Linked DNA regions of Homo sapiens. The protein of the gene in region 1 purifies or fractionates together with the protein of each later gene. This does not show direct contact. Each region holds a gene or a part of one and is shown in the gene's direction. Other genes may lie near its edges.

Region 1 (7,032 bases):
ATTCTGACATTCTTTTATGTCAGTGAACACCTAACTTAGTATCTAGTTGACTCAAGATGAGAGTTCTCAATGCTATAATTTGAATGTCTTTGAAAATTCCACTAGTATTATACAAGCTTTTTCTTTTTCTATACTCAGAGAGTTACTAATGCAATAAGCTTTGTCAAATGACGTCGTAGTGTAGTCCAAATTCATTGTATAAGGACTTATCACAGTACATGGATTTGTAATCATGTGTCCTCAGAGCATCCTCGGAACTTAGTAAGGTGTGTTTTCCAGTTTTACAGATAAATAAGCCTAAGCTGAGAGAATTAGGTAATTACTTAGGTCAGTAACTTAAATACATTATGAATCACGAGTTATTTTGATATCAAGACCTCTTTCTAGCAATGCTGCCATATTGTACTCATCATGTTCATTTCAGTATGGTTCTCATCTATATTGAACTGTAGATTCTGTGTTAGCATTTATTACCTCTGCTCCAGTATTGATTCTTTTATGTTAGGTTTGGCAGTAAGGGCCTTAGAAATTCCTCACAGTGAATTTTTAAGATCTGGAAGAGACTAGTTTGAAATATTCATTTTAATATGTACCACAGAGGTAATGGATTCTAATTATCTGGTTATTGAAGTTTGTCAAAAGAAAAATTGTACTTCCACTGAAGAAAAAAATAGCTAGTCTTTGCACTCTGAATAACTTTGTTTCATTAGGGTTTTTTGGTCAATTTTTCTTTAAGAGACAGGGTCTTACTCTGTTGCCCACACTCAAGGGATCCTCCTGCCTGAGCCCTCCACAATAGCTGGGACTACAGGTTTGCACCACCATGCCCAGCTAATTTTTTCAAAAACTTTTTGTGGAGATGGGGTCTTGCTGTGTTGCCCAAGCTGGTCTTGAACTCCTGGCCTCAAGCAATCTTCCTGTCTCAGCCTCCCAAAGTGTTGGGATTACAGGCATGTGCCACTGTGCCCAGCCTGTCAGTTTTAAATATGGAAAAATTATAACTTATAAAATTAGTGTATATTTAGATATTTCTTTCCGTACACATTTTGTCAGTGTGACTACTGGTAACAAATGTCAAAACTCTTGTGAGATAATTTCTAGTTCTTTGGTTTGTTTGCTGCTGATTTGGAAAGTGATGTCAGATCTTAATTTATATGTGGCTGTTGCTCATGTTTTGCTTACCTCTGCTGCAAAGGGCAGGGTCCATGTGACTGCCTGGCCACAATCGTTTTCTATGTGTTTAGCCCTTAAGAGTGCTGAGAATGTTTGTTGAGTAACAGCTTCCCTCCAGAGTGGTCAGTTCTCACATCACATGAGGTAGTTAATGAAGCCTCTTACTTTCCAGCTTCTGTAAGAAAAGTAGTCAGATATCATGGTCCAAGGAATGGCCTTATGCATACCTGGAGTCCTTATACCTATCCCATTTTAATTATATTGGCTTTAAAATCTTCAAGGTAAAAAGAGGCAATTTGAACCCCTTCTTTGTTGCCCTGAAAAATTCCAAGGAAAATTTCTTTGTCACAAGCTGAGCTAGGCATAATGAAAGCACTCTGGAAAAAGGAGGTAGAGAGTACTAAGAGATATCCAGCAATTATTGCTAAGTGGTAGGATTGGCATCGGGCACGTTATGTATATTTTTTATCTTTTCCTCTTAATAGCTAAATATGAGATATTCCCCCTATTTTAAAGATGAAGACTTTGAAATGCAGGGTAAGTGGTGATAGTAGGATATGAAGGCAAGATTGGGCTGGGCACAGTGGCTCATGCCTGTAATCCCAGCACTTTGGGAGACTGAGGTGGGTAGGTCACCGAGACCAGCCTGGCCAACAAGATGAAACCCTGTCTGTACTAAAAACAAAAATTAGCCAGGTGTGGTGGTGGGTGCCTGTAATCCCAGCTACTTGGGAGGCTGAGGCAGGAGAATCGCTTGAATCCAGGAGGTGGAGGTTGCAGTGAGCCAAGGTCACGCCCTTGCACTCCAGCCTGGGTGACAGAGTGAAACTCCGTATCAAAAAACAAAACAAAACAAAAATTAGCCAGGTGTGGTGGCACATGCCTATAATCCCAGCTACTTGGGAAGCTGAGACAGGAGAATCGCTTGAACCTGGGAGGTGAAGATAGTGGTAAGCCAAGCTCACGCCACTGCACTGCAGCCTGAGCGACTGAGCGAGACCTTGTCGCAAAAAAAAAAAAAAAAATTGGGAGGCCAAGGCGGGCAGATCACGAGGTCAGGAGATCGAGACCATTCTAGCTAACACGGTGAAACCCCGTCTCTACTAAAAATACAAAAAATTAGCCAGGTGCAGTGGCGGGCGCCTGTAGTCCCAGGTACTCGGGAGGCTGAGGCAGGAGAATGGCCTGAACCCGGGAGGCAGAGCTTGCAGTGAGCCAAGATCGCACCACTGCACTCCAGCCTGGGCGACAGAGCGAGACTCTGTCTCAAAAAAAAAAAAAAAGTCTTTCCTGGAATTCTCCAACACTTGAGCGCTTATCTTCAGTATAATTGCGTTATATTACTTAGTCAATTCAGTGCTTATTGATTTGAGATAACTGTTTGCTACTTGTTTGTAGGAGACGCACATTGATTGGGAAAGGGGGAGTGAGTGAGGTTTCTCTTTCAACTGAAGACCCTACCATAAGGTCAGGTGTATGTTAGATTTTCCTCTGCTGCCTTTTCAGTGCTGTGTTCATATGGTGTTCCTTTTCTTTTTTTCTTTTTCGTTTTGAGACAGAGTATCACTCTGTTGCCCAGGCTGGAGTGCAATGGCGTAATCTCAGCTCACCACAACCTCCGCCTCCGGGGTTCAAGCGATTCTCCTGCCTCAGCCTTCCTTGTAGCTGGGACCACAGGCGCGTGCCATCATGCCTGGCTAATTTTTGTATTTTTAGCGTAGATGGGGTTTCTCCACGTTGGTCTGGCTGGTCTCGAACTCTTGCCCTCGTGATCTGCCCACCTTGGCCTCCCAAACCAAAGTGCCTGGATTACAGGCGTGAGCCACCACGCCTGGCCTGGTGTTCCTTTTCTTTTCATCTTTACTTAACAGCTTTCCCCAAGGACACAGAAAAAAATAATAGAAAGTAATACTGTTTTCTTTTGGGAAAGAGGGTAGTATTGAACATGTATTTTTGAAGCAGTTAGCATGTGGAAGTAAAAGGTACTTGTCAGTGATGGCAGTCACTTAGTAACCTAGTTGTTGTAGTTAGGATTTTTGTTGGTTGTAGTTGATGAAAACCCACTTGAAATTAGCTTAAGCCAAAAGAGATAATTTACTGGACTCCAAAGAAAGGTGCAGGAAGGGCAGGGGTATAATGTAGCTTGGTTTATGACCGTATAGAGCCTGTCAGTCCGACTTAATCAGACTCTCCCTCTCTTTTTTTGCCTTTTCAGGCTTGTCTGCTTCACTCCTCCTTTCTGCAGACCTATATTTCCACCTGGCTAGCCTCTGAATGTCACATTAATTAGACTTTCTTCATATTGTCTGCTCCTAAGTTTGAAAATCTGGAGAAGGGATTCTTTAGGTATCCAGACGACAAGGTAATACAACAATGTGGGCCTGGTATGGTAGCTCACACCTGTAATCCTAGCACTTTGAGAGGCCGAGGCAGGTGGACTGCTTGAGCCCGGGAGTTCAAGACCAGCCTAGGCAACATAGTGAAAACCGGTCTCTACCAAAAGAAAAAAAAAAATAGCTGAGCATGGTGGCACATGTCTGTGGTTCCAGCTACTTGAGAGGCTGAGATAGGAGGATCACTTGAGCCCAGGAGGTTGTGGCTGCAGTGAGCCGTTATCATGCCACTGCATTCCAGCCTCTGGGTGACAGAATGAGACCCCATCTCAAAAAAAACAGCAAGGAAATCATAAGGAAGAGAAAATATAGTTCTATACTATAGTTATCAATACCATAAGTTTATGTCAGCTGTTTACAAAACGAATCATCTGTCAGAAATGATGGGCAACCACAGCTGTAGACCTCAATCTAACGTAACCCATCAAGCAATTAAAAAAGAATGTGGGAAGTCCCACAGAATCATATGGATTGCCTAGGAAGTACACAGAGGTGGGACTGCTTTATTGTGAATTTCTTTGAATTACCAGAGAAACATGTTTATGGACTTACTACCCTTTTCTTTTTGAGACAGTATCTTCCTCTGTCCCACAGACTAGAGTGCAGTGGCGTAATCACGGCTCACCGTAGCCTCAACCTCCTGAGCTTCTGATCCTCCTACCAGTCCCTCCTGTAGCTGGGACTACAGGTGTGCACCACTACACCCAGCTAATTTTTCTATTTTTTGTAGAGATGGGGTCTCACTATGTTGCCTATGCTGGTCTCAAGCAGCCCTCCCACCTCGGCCTCACAGAGCGCTGGGATTATAGGCATGAACCTCCGTGCCCAGCCTATTACTTTTTTTTTTTTTGAGATGGAGTCTCACTCTGTCACCCAGGCTGGAGTGCAGTGGCGCAATCTCGGCTCACCACAACCTCTGCCTCCCAGGTTCAAGCGATTCTCCTGCCTCAGCCTCCCGAGTAGCTGGGACTACAGGTGGGCGCCACCATGTCTGGCTAATTTTTGTATTTTTTGTAGACATGAAGTTTCACTATGTTGGCCAGGCTGGTCTCAAACTCCTGACCTCGTGATCTGCCTGCCTCGGCCTCCCAAAGTGCTGGGATTATAGACGTGAGCCTCCGCTCCTGGCCTCAGCCTAGTGCTTTTAATGGCTGTGATTCTACCAAGAACAGTATTTAAAGAGAGACTAGTTTTAATATGTGTAAACTGTAAAAGTTGTTTTAAAAATGAGAAGCACCACCAAGATAGGTTTTCTGTAAAATCTTCAGTTTATAAAAAATGCAATTTAGCTGGGCATGGTGGCTCATGCCTATAATTCCAGCACTTTGGGTGAGTGAGGGAGGAAGATTGCTTGAGCCCAGGAGTTTGAGACCAGCCTGGGCAAGATATCAAGACCCCACCTCTACAAAAAATAAAAGTTAGCTGGATGTGGTGCCGTGTGACTGTATTTCCAGCTACTCAGGAGGCTGAGGTGGCAGGATTGCTGGAGCCCAGGATATTGAGGCTGCAGTGAGCTATGATTGCACCACTCCACTCCAGCCTGGGCAACAGAGCAAAACCCTGTCTCAAAAGTAATTAAGATGAAAATTTTTTTAAAATGCAATTCAGTCTAGACCCAACTATATTGTCAACTTCTTGATGGCAGGTACTTCCATCACTTCTATTGTCTTTTGTAGTACTTAACGAGGGCTATATCGAGTATGTACCAGTACCAGGCACCATTCTAAGCACTGTGATGTTTCAACTAGTTTAATTTTCACAAACTCTTTTGTTTTTGGTGCCATCAAATTTACATAAGCAGACAATAACTTTCATTTTAGAGATGAGAAAACTGAGGCAGATAATTGGGAAAGCCGGGCTTATGTGTCTCATATGTGGTCAAACTGAGATTTGAACGTTGGCAGTCGAGCTCTATAACGAGTTTGCTGTGTGTCTGATAAGAACATAGTAGGAAATGTACTTAAAATACGAAATTTGATTGCTCTGGTGCCAAATAACCTAGAGGAGATGGTGTGTTTTTGTTGAGCTCAGTAATAATCTGAAACTATAATGAGATTTAACTCCTAAATTGGCAGACTGGTTAGAGATTGGACTCTACATGGGGATGTTTTAAGGGAGCTGGGAGAGCCATGAGGACCTGCTCTCACTGTTTGAGAACTTTTTATTTTTTTGGTGTTCAATTAAGAATTTATTCCGTCATCACAGAGTTTGAAGTTTAATTATGGAGCTACATAAATATCCATACTAGAAGAAAGTGATTGAAATCATCAGCGACACACACAGATAGAAAAAAGGTGTTAGAATGAAGTAACCTGAAATAGCATCTCATCCCTGCTTCTTAGAGTGTATCCATAAGCCAGCAACTTTGGCTTTACCTGGGTGGAATCTCAAGCCGTACTCCAAACCTCCTGAATCAGAACCTTTGTTTTTTTTGTTTTTTTTGTTTTTTTTTGAGATGGAGTTTCACTCTTGTTGCCCAGGCTGGAGTGCAATGGCACGATCTCAGCTCACTGCAACCTCTGCCGCCCTGGTCCAAGCAATTCTCCTGCCTCGTCTTCTCAAAGTGCTGGGCTTACAGGTGTGAGCCACCATGCCCGGCCTTTTAGAATCTGTATTTTAACCAGGTGATTTGTATTTTCATTAAAACCTAGAGCCTTATTGCTTATTGATTTAATACCACTTGCTTTAATAGTATCAAAACATGTTCATTAGAGAAATTAGGTTAATCATAACTGCTTGTGCATACTAGCTTTCTTCATCATGTACATTCTTTTCCCAAAATACCTGTATAATTTGTGGGTACTAGAAAATGCTCATGTGTTCAGAATGTATTTTTTGCTCAGTCCAAGTCTCCAGGTTAAAATTCATCCATTATTTTAAGCCCCCAGTCATTTCTTTTCTTTCTTTCTTTCTTTTTTTTTTTTTTTTTTTTGAGGCTGTCTTGCTCTCTTGCCCAGGCTAGAGTGCAGTAGCACGATCTCAGCTCACTGCAACCTCCGCCTTCCAGGTTCAAGCAATTCTTGTACCTCAGCCACCTGAGTAGCTGGGATTACAGGCATGTGCCACCATGCCTGGCTAATTTTTGTACTTTTAGTTGAGATGGTGTTTCACCATATTGGCCAGGCTGGTCTTAAACTCCTGGCCTTGAGTGATCTGCCTGCCTCAGCCTCCCAAAGTGCTGGGATTACAGGCATGAGCCACTGCGCCCAGCCTACCCAGTCATTTCTTGTGACCTATTGTTGTTCCCAGGCATATGTTAAGACTTAGAGGAAAGTTTGATTACTATTTAAAAAATAAAAAGTATCTGAAATCCTGTAATTGAAAGGCACGAATCTTGTCTTTAAGATTGTTGCTTCTTTCCTACAAAAATAGAAGTGGGGAAAAGGCAAACAGCAAGGCATTGCTGGAAGTGCTGTTTTCTACTTTTGTCTTCACCTGTGTTTTATACTGAGTATGATTTGTAAAC
Region 2 (7,032 bases), on another chromosome or scaffold:
CCGCCCGCCAGCATCCGAGGAGGCGGAGGTGGGGCCGAGAAGGCGACGCCCCTGGCGCCCAAAGGGGCCGCTCCGGGAGCTGTCCAGCCTGTGGCTGGTGCTGAAGCGGCCCCCGCCGCGACCCTGGCCGCTTTGGGCGGCAGGAGGCCCGGACCGCCCGAGGAGCCGCCTCGGGAGCTAGAGTCCGTGCCCTCGAAACTCGGGGAACCCCCTCCGCTCGGAGAAGGGGGAGGAGGGGGCGGGGAAGGAGGAGGAGCCGGCGGCGGCTCCGGGGAAAGGGAGGGGGGCGCTCCGCAGCCGCCGCCGCCCAGGGGCTGGCGAGGGAAAGGCGTACGCGCTCAGCAGAGGGGCGGCAGCGGCGGGGAGGGGGCCTCCCCTTCTCCATCCTCCTCTTCTGCGGGCAAAACCCCAGGAACCGGCAGCAGAAACTCCGGAAGCGGCGTTGCGGGGGGCGGCAGCGGTGGTGGAGGGAGCTACTGGAAAGAAGGATGTCTGCAGTCTGAGCTCATCCAGTTCCATCTCAAGAAGGAGCGGGCGGCAGCGGCGGCGGCCGCGGCTCAGATGCACGCTAAGAACGGCGGCGGCAGCAGTAGCCGCAGCTCCCCGGTGTCTGGCCCCCCTGCCGTTTGCGAGACCCTGGCCGTCGCCTCCGCCTCCCCAATGGCGGCGGCGGCGGAGGGCCCCCAGCAGAGCGCAGAGGGCAGCGCGAGCGGCGGGGGCATGCAGGCGGCAGCGCCCCCTTCGTCGCAGCCGCACCCGCAGCAGCTCCAAGAGCAGGAAGAAATGCAAGAGGAGATGGAGAAGCTGCGAGAGGAAAACGAGACTCTCAAGGTGAGGAGGGTGGGGGGACCCGGCTGGGGGATGGGAAGAGTGGGCCTGGGAGGATTAGGGCGTGTACCGGCAGGGATCAGAGGCTGCTAACCTGTTAGGGAGCCTTGAAGAGGGAGGAGAACAAGAAAGGAGGGAGGGGGTTTCCTAGGCCTTGCCGGAATTTGAATCTGCTCTCAGTAACGCGAGGTTTTCATTTAAATTCAAATCTGGGCCTCCGTTTCTCTAATTATAATGGTTTGTCACACTTCTTCCTGGAGAGAGGTAGAGTAAGAGAACGAGAGAGGGCCTAAAGTGGGCCTTTTTCCCCCAGTTTCCTCTTCTGTACTCAGCTCCTTGTCACTCCTGTCTCGTGGAGAGAGAGGGCAATTAAAGCTGAGAATTTGGAATTGGAATGGGGTGTGTACGGTGTGTGTCGGAAGGGCTGGAAGCGAGTTTGATTTTGACACGCGGCCTGTCACCGCCTCAGAACGAGATCGATGAGCTGAGAACCGAGATGGACGAGATGAGGGACACTTTCTTCGAGGAGGATGCCTGTCAACTGCAGGAAATGCGCCACGAGTTGGAGAGAGCCAACAAAAACTGCCGGATCCTGCAGTACCGCCTCCGCAAAGCCGAGCGCAAAAGGCTCCGCTACGCCCAGACCGGGGAAATCGACGGGGAGCTGTTGCGCAGCCTGGAGCAGGACCTCAAGGTCTGCGGCGCGGGGGCTCAATGGCGCGCGGCAGGGGCGGTGGGTGGGGACTTTGGCCAAGGGCTCTTTAGGCTGAGAAGTCTTCAGTGGCGACTGGCAAGGAGCCTTAGGGACACAGTTTCGTAGCGCTAACCACAAAATACTAGGGTCTCAGAAGGGAGAGAACTGGCAGGTGGCTCTAAAGAGTGCAGAGTGTGTGGAGGGCCTGGCAGCAAACGAGCTAAGTGTGCTCTCCTGGGAGCAAAGGTGGCTCTTCAAGAGGTGATGAGAAGAAGGCTCCCTTCTGGGCAGAAGCAAGGGCGTGGCAGAGCGCAGGCTCTAGCCTTTGATCTGCCCTTCAGTCTGTCTACTGAGAGAAGTCCGGTGGAATCGGGCAGTCAGGAGCTGCACTAAAAGGACTCCTCTGGGGGAGTTGAAACCCAAAATAGGAACTGCACTGGGAAGATACTAGAGTTAAGATTTCTTTCAGCAAGTGTCCACTCCACTTCCTTCTTCCAGGACTTCTTCCTTTCTGCACTTGCCACTTAGGTGACTCCCTGAGGGGGAAAAAAAAAACAGATAACCAACTTGCAGCCTGTTTGGTGTGAGGTAAATGAAATAATCTCATTTTTTTAAAGTGCAATTGTTCCTTCAGAATTTCTTCCAGTGGAAAAATCTCAACCTTGAAGTGCATTTTCTAGACAGGTGTGGTCTCCAGTTCAGTTTGACTGTAGGCAGATTCATTGACTATGCAAACTAGACATTAACTTAATCTCCTTGCACAACCAAATAAGTATACGTTCATTGCATTAACTTCATTGGGATTTAAAGATCACGTGTAATCTTTGTTTTAAAGAAAGCTATGTGTAAACATTTTATGAAAGACGTATTACTTTTTTTCTTAACTTTTGTCGAGTGCTTAGTATGTACTAAGCACTGTGGCAAACACTGTTACATACATTATTATTTCATTTAATTCTCAAGGGAAAAAAAATCCTACAATGTAGGGATTATTAAGGCACCATTTTATAGGTGCAGAAGCTACACCTTTTACAGAGGTTAAGTGCCCAGGCCTGGAAAACAGCTAATAGGTGCCAGGCTGACTCTCCACTCAGTCCAAAATCACAACCTGTGTCCTAAGCCTCTACACCAGTCTGCTCCACTTTTCTTCCAAACCCTAGAATTTCCAGGATAATCTCAAAATATGAGGCAAAAATGCACAGTCATTCAAAAAATAATAATCTCAAGGACTAAAACTTTCCTAAGATTAAGCAACTGGAATTCAAGCTATAAGATTGAAATTCAAGCCCAACCCACTACTTGTAAAAACTTCAATTTTTCATTCTTTAACATAGATTATAATGGAAACATCTACCTCATAGTTTTGCTGAAGTAAAGGAAATTTGTGAAATTTCTCTACATGTGATAAAATGCAATAGAACATTTTTTACCACAGAGTAGTGCAGAAGTTAAGGGAACAAAATTTAGAGCCAGATTGCCAGGCCTCTTAGCCCAGCAGTGTCTACTCATTAGCTGTGTGACCTTGACCTCTCTGAGACTCAGTTTCCTCATCTACAAAATAGAAGTAATAATAGTACCTATCCCATGGGATTTTTGTAGGGTTAAACGATTGATATATGTGAATGGCTTATATGTATACTTTGTGGAATAATGCCTGGCACATGGTAAACACCATATAAATATTGGGTTTTAATGCTTTCAATAGGAATACAATTTTAGCCCTTATTATATTGTCATTAATTATATTTTATTGTTACAAACACCTTAATTCAGGTTGCAAAGGATGTATCTGTGAGACTTCACCATGAATTAGAAAATGTGGAAGAAAAGAGAACAACAACAGAAGATGAAAATGAGAAACTGAGGCAACAGCTCATAGAAGTTGAAATTGCAAAGCAAGCTTTACAGAATGAACTGGAAAAAATGAAAGAGGTTAGTATTTGATTATTTCATGGTGTACTATGTATTTTTAGCCCTTTAAAAAAGAATCCCAAGGACTAATATGACTGTTAAAAAATTTCTTTTATGATTGCAGGACAATTTTTTACTCTTACCCAAATAGTAAAAAATACATGATTTCATACTAATAAATGAGTAGCAACGAAAGATTCTGACCTAAACACGGTATCTAACTCGACATGTACGAGCTTTGACTGATCTCTGTGTTTCATCTCTGTGTCTTCTAAATGTATGTTAATTAAATCAATTCCACAGCATATTAAATGCAAAGAGTGTCAAGCGTGTGAAGGAATGAGACTTGTGATAGTTGAGGGGAATAATTAGCCCCATGAGATTACTTACAATTGAGTTCATAGAACCATGAATTTTTAGGATGGAAAAGACTCTAAGGTCCATTTGATCTAATCCATTCATTGCTTGAAGTCTATATATAGCAAAGCCAGCCCTTCCCGCAATGTTCTAATGCTTGCAATATCACCAGTGACTATCCCTGAAGATCTTTTACAGCAGCCAATTGTATCATATCATAGCTCTGTTTAAAGATTTTCCTTTTTTTTTTACATGATATATATTTAATTGCAACTTTAGCCAGCTCATCTTAGTTATACCCTTTAGGGTAGAAGAGTAAAGTTCTCCTTCATGTCAGCTATTTGAAGATTCCAAATGTGTTTACCATGAGTCTTCTAAAAGAACAGAATCAAGGTAAAGAAATGGAGGAGAAAAGAGACAGAAACACCTATCAAGAAATGATTAGCTTTAAGATAAACAGCAATTTAATTAGAATTAAATTATACTTCTCTTTGATAGCTACCTGAACATGTACAATGCAACTTGTGAAAACTACCATTGAGAAATAGCAAATGCACAAGTTGTCTTCCGAAAAATTTCCTCTGCTTGGATAAGCAGAATTCTAAAGAAAATTCTAATCTTTCCACAGACTGAGGTATTTACCCACCTGTCATTGCTGTGCTTATCTCAAAATGGTACAAAAATATAATGCAAATAACAGTGCAATTATCAACAGTCTGATTAAGAATATGTCTTAGGACTTTGAAGAATACAGTTTCAGTGGAGTAAACTATTTTTTGTGATCTGTTTACTTATATTATCCTGACTTTAAACATTTTTTAGCATAAGAAAATAGTAAAAAAATATTTTAATGATATAAAATCCTTGGCTACTAGCTAGGAGTCGCTCTGTGCTATAGTAGAAAAATATGGAGACTGGGAGCTGTGTGATCTATTTTCACCAGTAACTGGGTGACTTTAAAAGGCCTGTAACTTGTACTTGTCTACTTTTATCCAGTTCTACACTGAAAGATTGTTTTTGATGATTCTCAACATCTTTTTCTGGTATGTAAGACTTTCCTCATGAAATTCAGAACATTGCCATTTAAGGAATGGCAAAGATTTTTTCCCTAAAGTTAAAAGATCAAATATGAAATTAATATAGTTATAAGTATATATTTCTTCAACAATAATGTACAGTTGAAGGTATGTCAAAAATTGACTTTCATTTATAGAAAAAAAAGTAAAGTAGGTAACTGTATTAGTTCTCTAGGGTAGCTGTAACAAAATACCAAAAACTGGGTGGCTTAAACAGCAAAAAGATGTATTATCTCACAGTTCTGCAGTCTAGAAGTCTGGAATCAAGGTGTTAGTAGGGCTGGTTCTTTCTGAGGGCTGCGAAGGCAGGATATGTTCCAGGCCTCCCTCTATGGCTTGTAGATGGCCATCTTCATGGTCACATGGCATTCTCCCTGTAGCTCTCTGTTTCCAGACTTCCCCTTTTTGTAAGGATATCAGTGATATTAGATTAGGGTCTTCCCTAAGGACCTCATTTGACCTGCCTGGGCTCAAGCTATTCTCCCACCTCTGCCTCCCTAAGAGCTGGGATTACAGGCATGAGCCATCACACCCGCCCCTCATTTTAATTTGATTACCTCTGTAAATACCTCTGTCTCCAAATGAGATTTCATCCTGAGCAGCTGGGGGTTAGGACTTCAATATATGAATTTGACAGGGAGGGTAGAAGGAGAGAACAGAATTCAACCCACAGCAGCAACAATCTAATAGCTTCCTGTGAGCAAGCAAAGAGAATGTTCATTGTCAGTCTCATAGGCGCCATTCCCTATTCATACGTTACTTGTGCTCTCTCATATTCCTTGAGTGTTTTAAATTGTAAACATTCAAGTACAAACAAACTTCGCTTGATTACCAGAGATAAAAAAGAAATGCCTTGTAATTTGGTGTCATGTGAATGTTTTAAGTGGATACCTGAAAAATTGTACTTAAGAATGGCATAAGAGCTTTCTGATTTTCATTTTACTTCCATTAAAGGGGAAAATATGCATAGACTGTCTATCCATTAGCCAGAACAATGGGACCTCTCCCATCTTAAAATAAAAGCCAAAATAATCTGGCCACCAGGAAGAAAGGGTAGAGCTTGGGAATGTCCTCAGGAGATTGTAAAGATGCGTTTCCTTGATTCTTTTGCTCACACTCTTCCCTGTGACTATTTCCTCCTTCAGGGCTCTATTTCTGGGTTGGGAGAATGCTGTTCCAGCACCAAGCAGTGTGGGTATATATATTCATACCAAAGAGGCAATTTGATTGTCCTTGGAGTTACAAAAAACCAAATGTCAATGCCTGATTAGGGAATACAACAATAAAAGTAAAAATAATTTAGGAGTATATATGCAGAACATCAGCCTTTAAAGTAATCTTTTATTAGGAAAATGGCATTCACGATTTGAGAAGATGGAAGGTGGTGGGGAACAGAAATAAAAAAAAACAGGAAGGGAGAAAGAGTGGAAGATAAACATCTGGAGGATACTAAATATAATAAAGGAAAACCAAATAATATTCTGGTAGGAGTTCTCTATAATTATCCATTTGAGGTTGACCTTCATAGTGTTCAGAAAAATGTCAGAAATAGAAAAAGTAGTTTAACAATATGTTTAGAAATCAGAAATGTTTCATTCAGATAAGATTTTTGCAATGGTAATTTTATGATGCTCTAAAACGGTAAATATTAAAACTGAGCTGCAATTATAACTGGCTTACTCTGTGGATAAGGGTTGTAAGCTACTCCTTGGATGACTTGCAACAACTTCAGTTAACCATCTGCTTCATTGGTTGTAAAATGAAAACATATTCAAGCCCTTGGTGAGTGTTAACCAACTTGGTTAATTTGGTGAGTGATGAATTGTCATCCCTTCGTGTCATTTTTTTAAAGGAGAAAAGTAGAACCAGGCCAAGCTCTCCATTAAGAGAAAAGACACTAGTTATAGAGTAAAGTCAAAAAATCATAGAATATACTCTAGAGAAGCAATCCTCCAATTCCAAGTTTTTAGATCTTTACATGGAGTCATATAGATGTTGAACAGCACCGCTGGGACCAATAGACCATCTGCTACAGTTTAGAACTGTTTGCTAAAAATTTAATTAGCTTCAAGGGTATTGACCAATTGCTCTCAGGACTGGTGGCTGCACAAGGTCTTGTGCACCTCCTCACATCTATCTGTCTATCTTCTCCCCCTGAGAGGATGG
Region 3 (7,032 bases), on another chromosome or scaffold:
GGTGTCACTGTGTGAAGGTCGCCTCCAGGAGCTGATGGGGAGAGGTTGTACTTACCGTGTTGTTCTGTTTCAGGTATTTTGCACTTGGACTGCTCTATCATTATAATAACCAAGATGCTGCTGCAGTTCAGGTGAGTCTAGAAGGGTTTCCACATGATTTAAAAATCAGCACCATGTAAGTAATACTTAGTGTTACTTAAAAAAAATTCACAAGTTGATAGAGACCACTTTTGCCTGATCTACACCCTTTTATACAGAATAAAAATGATTCTGTTTTAGAAAGTGAATTCCTGGAGAAATGTTGGCCAAGAGTTTTCTTCTCATTGTCTTTCCATCTCCTTAAAGAACATTATCAAGACTGAGTTTTTGAAAACTTAAGAAATGAAAATATGATCTCACAGAGTTCCAAGTCATAATATATCACTACCCTTATCAGAAAATTTAGGCAGTGAATGATAGTCGGATTTACCATTTCCACTGTTAGTGATGATCACTGTTGCCAATGAGCTGGGTACATTATTATCCTTGTGTCACCTGTGACAAAACCAAAGCTGATGCATGCCAGTTGCTTGCCCGAGGCCATGTGTCCGTGGTAGATCTGGGATCTGAACCGCGCTCCATTGGCCTGGCAGGGGTCCTGCACCCTAATCAAAATGGCATCGATTTATTAGCATTGTCACATTTTGTATCTTACATCTTGCTACTGATCTTGAGAAAAGCCTCATCTCACACTCTCAGGGGGAGACTTTCTCCCCTTCGTTATTAGTTATGCATTTGTACTGCACCGTGTTGTTTCCTGATGTGCCTTTTTGCTTTATTTTGTGAGGGGCCAAGAGCATCAGCCATGTTCCCCAAGCTAAAGTTAACCTCATGACTCTGGCAAGGCTGAACATGTATTTAGTGTTTGATTGCTTTGTGAGACTATTGTGGTAACCTGATTGCAGAGCAGAACAACAACAACAACAAAAAATGGAGTTGGGTGAATTAACACGTACCCAATGGCCAAGAGTAGATTTGGGTGTCAGTGATAAAATTTTCATTTTCAAAAACCTGGTGTTCTCAGTTACAGCTTTATATAAGTATAGTAATAACTTTAGCAGAGCTGTAGAGAGATAGATTTGCAAACTTGAAGTGATATGGGATAAATCTCCATACGTGGTAGAATTTTATATAAAATGGCATATTTCAAGGTATGTGTGATTATTTGGTTTCAGCAATTCTGTGTTGAAGAAACTAGTATCATAAAAAATGTTCGTATGCTGACATCAGAATTCCAGAATTCATATGCCACCCCTGTTTCTGGGCTCCTTCCTGGTGCTGTGGCTTGGAGGGGTGGTGCTGTGTATGGGTGGGTGAGGCACGCCATGCAGGTATTGCAGAAGGAACCCACGCAACCGTCATCCTTTCTACCCCCAAGTGATGCTGCCTCATTCTGGGGTCCTGAAAGTAGGCTTCACTTAACATGGTAGGGAAGTTTCTGGCTGAAAAAGCAAAAGGCTTTTATCACTGGAGTCTATCCTGAGCCCCCTGTGCAAAAGGCAGTGTGAACTCAGGGGACAGAATCACTGAAGCTTTTGTAAAAGCACAACATCTGCCTATCACAGTCCAAAGGGGACTTCAAAATCAAGAATGTCTGTGACGGAGAAGATGGAAACAGAGCCTGGCTGATGGTTGTAGGTGAATCTTCTCTGTGTCGAGATGTTATCAGTGACCGTTTTCTTTATTTCATGAAGAAACATTTTTAATATATTCACCTCCCTGCATATATTCTGTTTACTGTGTTATTGTTAAAAAAAGAAAGAAAGATAAAAGAACCTAGAGCTTAATTTTTTTTTTTATTTCTTGGACTATGTCTTTTTACATTTCTTTATTTCTCCAAAAAAACTAAAATTTAAGCATTTACAGTTTTTCCAACTACTTTAAAAGGTATTAAAAAGCCAAATAAGTAAACATATGCCATTTCTCAACTAATTCTGAGATATGTGCCTTTATGATTGTTTTTTCTTTTCTTTTTCTTTTTTTCTTTTTGATTCCTTTCCAGTTGTGGGTGAACATTGTGAATGGCGATGTCCAGGACTCCACACGCTCAGACCTGTATGAATACATCGTGGATTTTCTTACCTACTGCTTAGACGAGGAACTAGTGTGGGCCTATGCTGATTGGGTCCTGCAGAAAAGTGAAGAGGTTTGTGCTTCGTAAAAATGCATTCTCTTTGGTTGGGGGAGGTGGTAAAAACAGACCCCAAAAGCTTTGCTTTTAGGAGGGGAAAAGAAAGCTACATTTCAACCTCCTCCTCTGTTTTTTGTTGTTGTTATTATTCCCCTTTTAATACCTTCCCTTGAGCTCTCTGGATTCTAGCTCTAGGGCAGTTCTGCATCTTGCTGCTGAGACATTCCATTGAGAATCCCCTTGCTGGGGCAAGTCACTTGTATAGAAAAGCAAGACATAGCCAGCTTGCATTTTTAGCATCTTCTTAAGAACTTGTGTCTGTGAACCCCGCTCCTCGACCCCTCAGAAGTCTGACACTGCTGTTTTCTGGAGCAGGATTAGGTGGTTGCCCTGAAGGACTTGATCTTTGGGAGGAGGAAGCACCCAGACCTGGGCCACACTGGGCCCTCATCCCTGCTCCCACCACTGCCAACATGGAGCTTGTGGGCCTGGAGGAGGGAGGGGAGCCATGAGCAAGACTCGGCCTGTCCTGGAGGCTGAGAAATGCTGGCAGTGAAAAAGCACCTGTTGGCTAGAGGGAAGGTAGCAGGCTCAGGACAGTATCCTTAGTAAAGCCCCACAGGTGACCACAGGTGACTGGGAAGAAGACAGCAAGCATTTCAGTTCTCATCGTGAAAAACGTATACGCTTCCATGGCTCCCCTTGGAGAGACAAAATGAGCTTTCTGATGCAGGACGTTGGTCCTGAATGGAGAGTTTCTGAGTGCTGCATCTGCCTTTCTAAGACCTGAGTTGGAATATATTCTCATATCCTCCGTGGTGCTGGCTTCCCTGGAAAATCAGAGCCAGGCACTTGCACTTTGCATACTTGTTTCTCCATCTTTACTTTGCCTCTGTGCACACGCCTGCAGAGCACATCCTGACCTGCTCACACACACCTACAACATGGATCTCAGTGCCGTTGCAAGGTTTAGGCTTCTCCCAATGCTTATGGATGATAACAGCAGATACTGCACGGTGGACAATCCCCTGACAAAGGTCATCGCTTAAACATCATAGCAGCCCCTCAGTGGGCATTAGCTACAGATGAGGAAACTGAGGCTATAGTTGGTAGAGCTGGGACACAAATCCAGGCTTATAGAATCCAAAATTCATACCATAATACATGATACGTGAATGTATTGGCCTTGGAGGGGGGAGGTGCGTGTGTGCGTGCACATGATAGAACCTCCCACATGTAAGTGCTCAGGGGAGGTGCAGTGGAGAGCTGCTTTCCTGCCTGCCTCACTGTCCTTTCCTTGAACCAGAGGATTGGACCAGTGCCTCCACTTGATGGACACAGGAAGGCAGCCCGGAAACTTACTCAGGGACTGGAAGCTCAGATCTCAGATTAACCATCTATCATAAATAACCCAGAGTAGATAATCCATGTTCAGAGAAGTGAGTTTACTGTACAGAAATTTCAGCACTTTTGATATCTTTTCACATACTGTTCTGCAACTGGCTATCCCTGTTCTTGGATGATCTTAATGTTATTATTATAGGTTGTCAAAATCTGTCACCAGTAAATGCTTTGTTCTTCAGTTTCCAATTTGCATGGGGTGTGTGAGGAGGACTTCAGGGTATAGGCTGGCTTTTCTATCTTGATTTTTTGCCCTCTGGCCTTTGACAGTGCTTCATGCTGGGCTGTTTTTCTCCATAATTATATTTTTTAAGCCACTGTATTGAGATATGATTGACATACAAAAAGCTGTGCATACATAATAATTTAATCATATTTTAAGTGATGATTTTATCCAAAGCTTGAATGTGCAATGACCAAAATAAAGTTAAAGGAAAGGTGGGTTTGGGAAGCACAGTCACTGTATTGTCGCTCCTCTTTCAGGTCGGAGTTCAGGTTTTCACCAAGAGACCTTTGGATGAACAGCAGAAGAACAGTTTTAATCCAGACGACATTATCAATTGCCTTAAAAAATACCCTAAAGCCCTTGTGAAGTATCTGGAACATCTTGTGATAGACAAGAGACTGCAGGTGAGCACTGCAGAAGTTAGACTAAAGAGTGTGGGCTGGAGAGACGGAATTGAACTAGAACACTTTTTGGCATGTGATTCTGTGTAATGTCTGTTCCCTGGGTGATCCATCCGTACTTGTTGATGGTCTGATGGCGGCCTTGAGGCTTGCGGAAAGAGACCTGGAGCAATAGGTAGCTTTATTTTTTTCTCCGTCCGTCTCACACCCACTCAGCTTTTATTTTTCCTCTCTTTTCCTTCTTTGTTATTATCCTTAAAGGAAATAAAGGGAGCTATACCTTTTTGTAGGTTATCTAAATTCTGTGGCCCTTACTTCTTGAAATAAGAGGTGACATTTTGTTCTATTCCCCATAGATGGTAAACTCATCTCAGTATCATGGTTTCTGAGAGGGTTTCGATCCAGCAAGTGAGCATCTGCCCAGCTCATGTCAGTGCAGCCGCGGTCTCCAAGCCCTGGCTGACAGGGGAGAGCTTTGACTTTCCCACTTGAAAACACTGTCTGTCTGCTTGGCTCCCCCTGTTTCCTGCAGAAAGAAGAGTATCACACCCACTTAGCTGTGCTGTACCTGGAAGAGGTGCTGCTGCAGAGGGCCTCCGCCAGTGGCAAGGGTGCAGAGGCCACCGAGACGCAGGCCAAGCTGCGGCGGCTGCTCCAGAAATCTGATTTATACCGAGTCCACTTTCTTCTCGGTGAGGATGATCTCAGTATTGTCTCCCTTTGGAAAAAACTCATATCAAGCGGGTGGGAGGAAGCAGAGAGAAGGGCTTTGGCACAGCTGCTGGTTGATTGCACAGGGTGATTCTTTGAGCCTCTTTTTTTAAAAAGATTTTTTTAAATGAAGACAGGGTGTCGCTTTGTCACCCAGGCTGGTCTCAAACTCATGGCCTCAAGTGATCTTCCTGCTTCTGCCTCCTAAGGTGCTGGGATTATAGGCGTGAGCCACCACACTCAGCCCTTGAGCCTCTTTTGACAGAGTCAGCCTCCTTGCAGGGAGAAATAAGGCTTCTCGTGCCTCTAGAGATGGACCGTGCCTCTAGATGGACGGTGCCCTTTGATTGATGATGTTGGTGCTGCCCTGGTAGACTTTAGACGTCTGTGTGTCTCTTGACACACAGTGTCTTTATTCAATGTCAAAGCACTGAGTCATAGTTCCCTCTGACGGCTTCAGTCTCTGATCAAGGCTTTGCAGTAGGCACTGCCCCCAGCGACCCATTCCCGAGCTGCTCAAGGCTCAGGTCCCTCGAGCTCTAAGCAAGAAGGTTATGCAGGTGTCTTGGAGGGCATTTGGGTTTCTGTTCCTCAGGGGTACAGAGGCCACAGTTTCTGTATTGTGTAAAGTTCCACAGCGCAGCATGGTGCTTGCAACTGGTAGAATTAACTAGTTTCTTGCCACATTAAGAATTTCTGCATTTATACTCACTGGGGTTAGTGATGTGTTTTTCTTTAATGGCCTTTAATACCATTTTTTGACCAATAACAAAGCATATCTAACACACGTGTTGTCTCCATAAAGCACATCACAACCTTCCAGAGCTTAGGAGCGCTAGGCAGCACTTCAGCACTACACTGAAATCACCAACAAGAAGCACCAAAATGCAAAAAAGCATGGCAATAAATAGCCCGTGAAAAGGAAACGTGTAGCTAGTACGACAGCTGAAGCAAGGAAGGAGGGCGCTCCTTCTTTGGCCTCAGCTCTGCATCAGGCTCTGTGCTTGTCGTAAATGACCTTGAAGCTGCTGCGAGTGTTGATTGGGAGGTTACAAATAAATTTCAGCGAGTAGATGACTTTGTAAATACAGAATCCACAAATAATGAGGATTGACTAGATATGCCCAGCATAGGTTGAAACGCTGAGGCTGCCTTATGACACAGTTTCCACAACAACCCTGTGAAGTGAGGCCTGTTTTTCCTCCATTTTTACAGAAGAGTGCACTGAAGCCCAGAGAGGTTACCCCGCTTGCCACAGGTCACACAGCCCACGAGCAGTAGAGCCAGAACACAGGTGTGGGTTGGTATTTCATGAAACCAGCAAACACTAGTTCTGGCTTGTACCTGCACCTACATTAGGACTTTCTGTGGCGATCCGCTGTGCAATCTCTGTTCACTCACAGCCACCGTCCCTGACTGATCAGTGCCAGGGTGTCCCAGCTATTGAATTTTTACTCACTCCTGACTTATTCTTTTTGCTTTACAAATCTCCTTATAAAACTCTCAGGCCAGCCACAAGTGTGTGGTTCAATGTTTGCATTCCGCCAGCTTTTCTGAGTATGTAGAGTGTGTCACTGTGCATTGAGGATACAAAGATGGATGAGACTTGGTCCTGGTCCTCAGAGACTCAGAGTTTAATTGGAATGCAGTTAAGGGCAGGTACAGTTCTAGAAGGGCCGAGGAACCCACGAGCTGTGCCTTGGGGTGGAGGGGTCAGAGGCAGCCTCCCGGAAGAGGCCCTATATGAGCAGTCATTAGGTATAAGCCTGGGCTTGCAGGTAGCACAGGGGAGCTTTCAGGCAATGGGGGTATCCCCCGCAGCACTGTGGGAGGAGCACTGGAAATCCAAACACTGATTTTGTATCCCTTCTTAGTTAGATGACTTGGGGAAATGTCAGTCTAGGGAAGTTGTAAAAACGATTCCAGCCCAACCTATCCACTCGGGGTGGCTGTGGGAGTCAAATATAAATGAGATGATAGATGTGGAAGTGTAAATCACCACAGTGATCTTTTCTTAACTGTCTTTGTACCTCACCCAGGGTCTTAACTATGGCAGCCACTTAGTAATTATTTGTTGGCCTTCCACTGTGAGGATGAAGGCGTTGCGTATTGTGGCTTCTGTG

The links. The genes of interacting proteins can lie anywhere in the genome.
Region 2: the proteins of NRBF2 (region 1) and MTCL3 purify together in Homo sapiens (affinity purification with mass spectrometry; 3 studies listed by BioGRID and IntAct, with this or other methods). This does not show direct contact.
Region 3: the proteins of NRBF2 (region 1) and TGFBRAP1 purify together in Homo sapiens (affinity purification with mass spectrometry; 3 studies listed by BioGRID and IntAct, with this or other methods). This does not show direct contact.

Annotation. Positions count from the first base shown.
Region 1 is NC_000010.11:63,136,303-63,143,334, forward strand, and holds part of NRBF2 (nuclear receptor-binding factor 2), read left to right. Parts: intron 1-7,032. UniProt on the Homo sapiens protein: May modulate transcriptional activation by target nuclear receptors. Can act as transcriptional activator (in vitro). Involved in starvation-induced autophagy probably by its association with PI3K complex I (PI3KC3-C1).
Region 2 is NC_000006.12:127,509,313-127,516,344, reverse strand, and holds part of MTCL3 (microtubule cross-linking factor 3 precursor), read left to right. Parts: coding exon 1-831; intron 832-1,044; exon of another isoform or gene 1,045-1,297; coding exon 1,298-1,522; exon of another isoform or gene 1,523-2,058; intron 2,059-3,295; coding exon 3,296-3,454; intron 3,455-5,104; exon of another isoform or gene 5,105-6,274; intron 6,275-7,032.
Region 3 is NC_000002.12:105,270,713-105,277,744, reverse strand, and holds part of TGFBRAP1 (transforming growth factor-beta receptor-associated protein 1), read left to right. Parts: intron 1-73; coding exon 74-131; intron 132-2,041; coding exon 2,042-2,185; intron 2,186-4,054; coding exon 4,055-4,201; intron 4,202-4,730; coding exon 4,731-4,890; intron 4,891-7,032. UniProt on the Homo sapiens protein: Plays a role in the TGF-beta/activin signaling pathway. It associates with inactive heteromeric TGF-beta and activin receptor complexes, mainly through the type II receptor, and is released upon activation of signaling.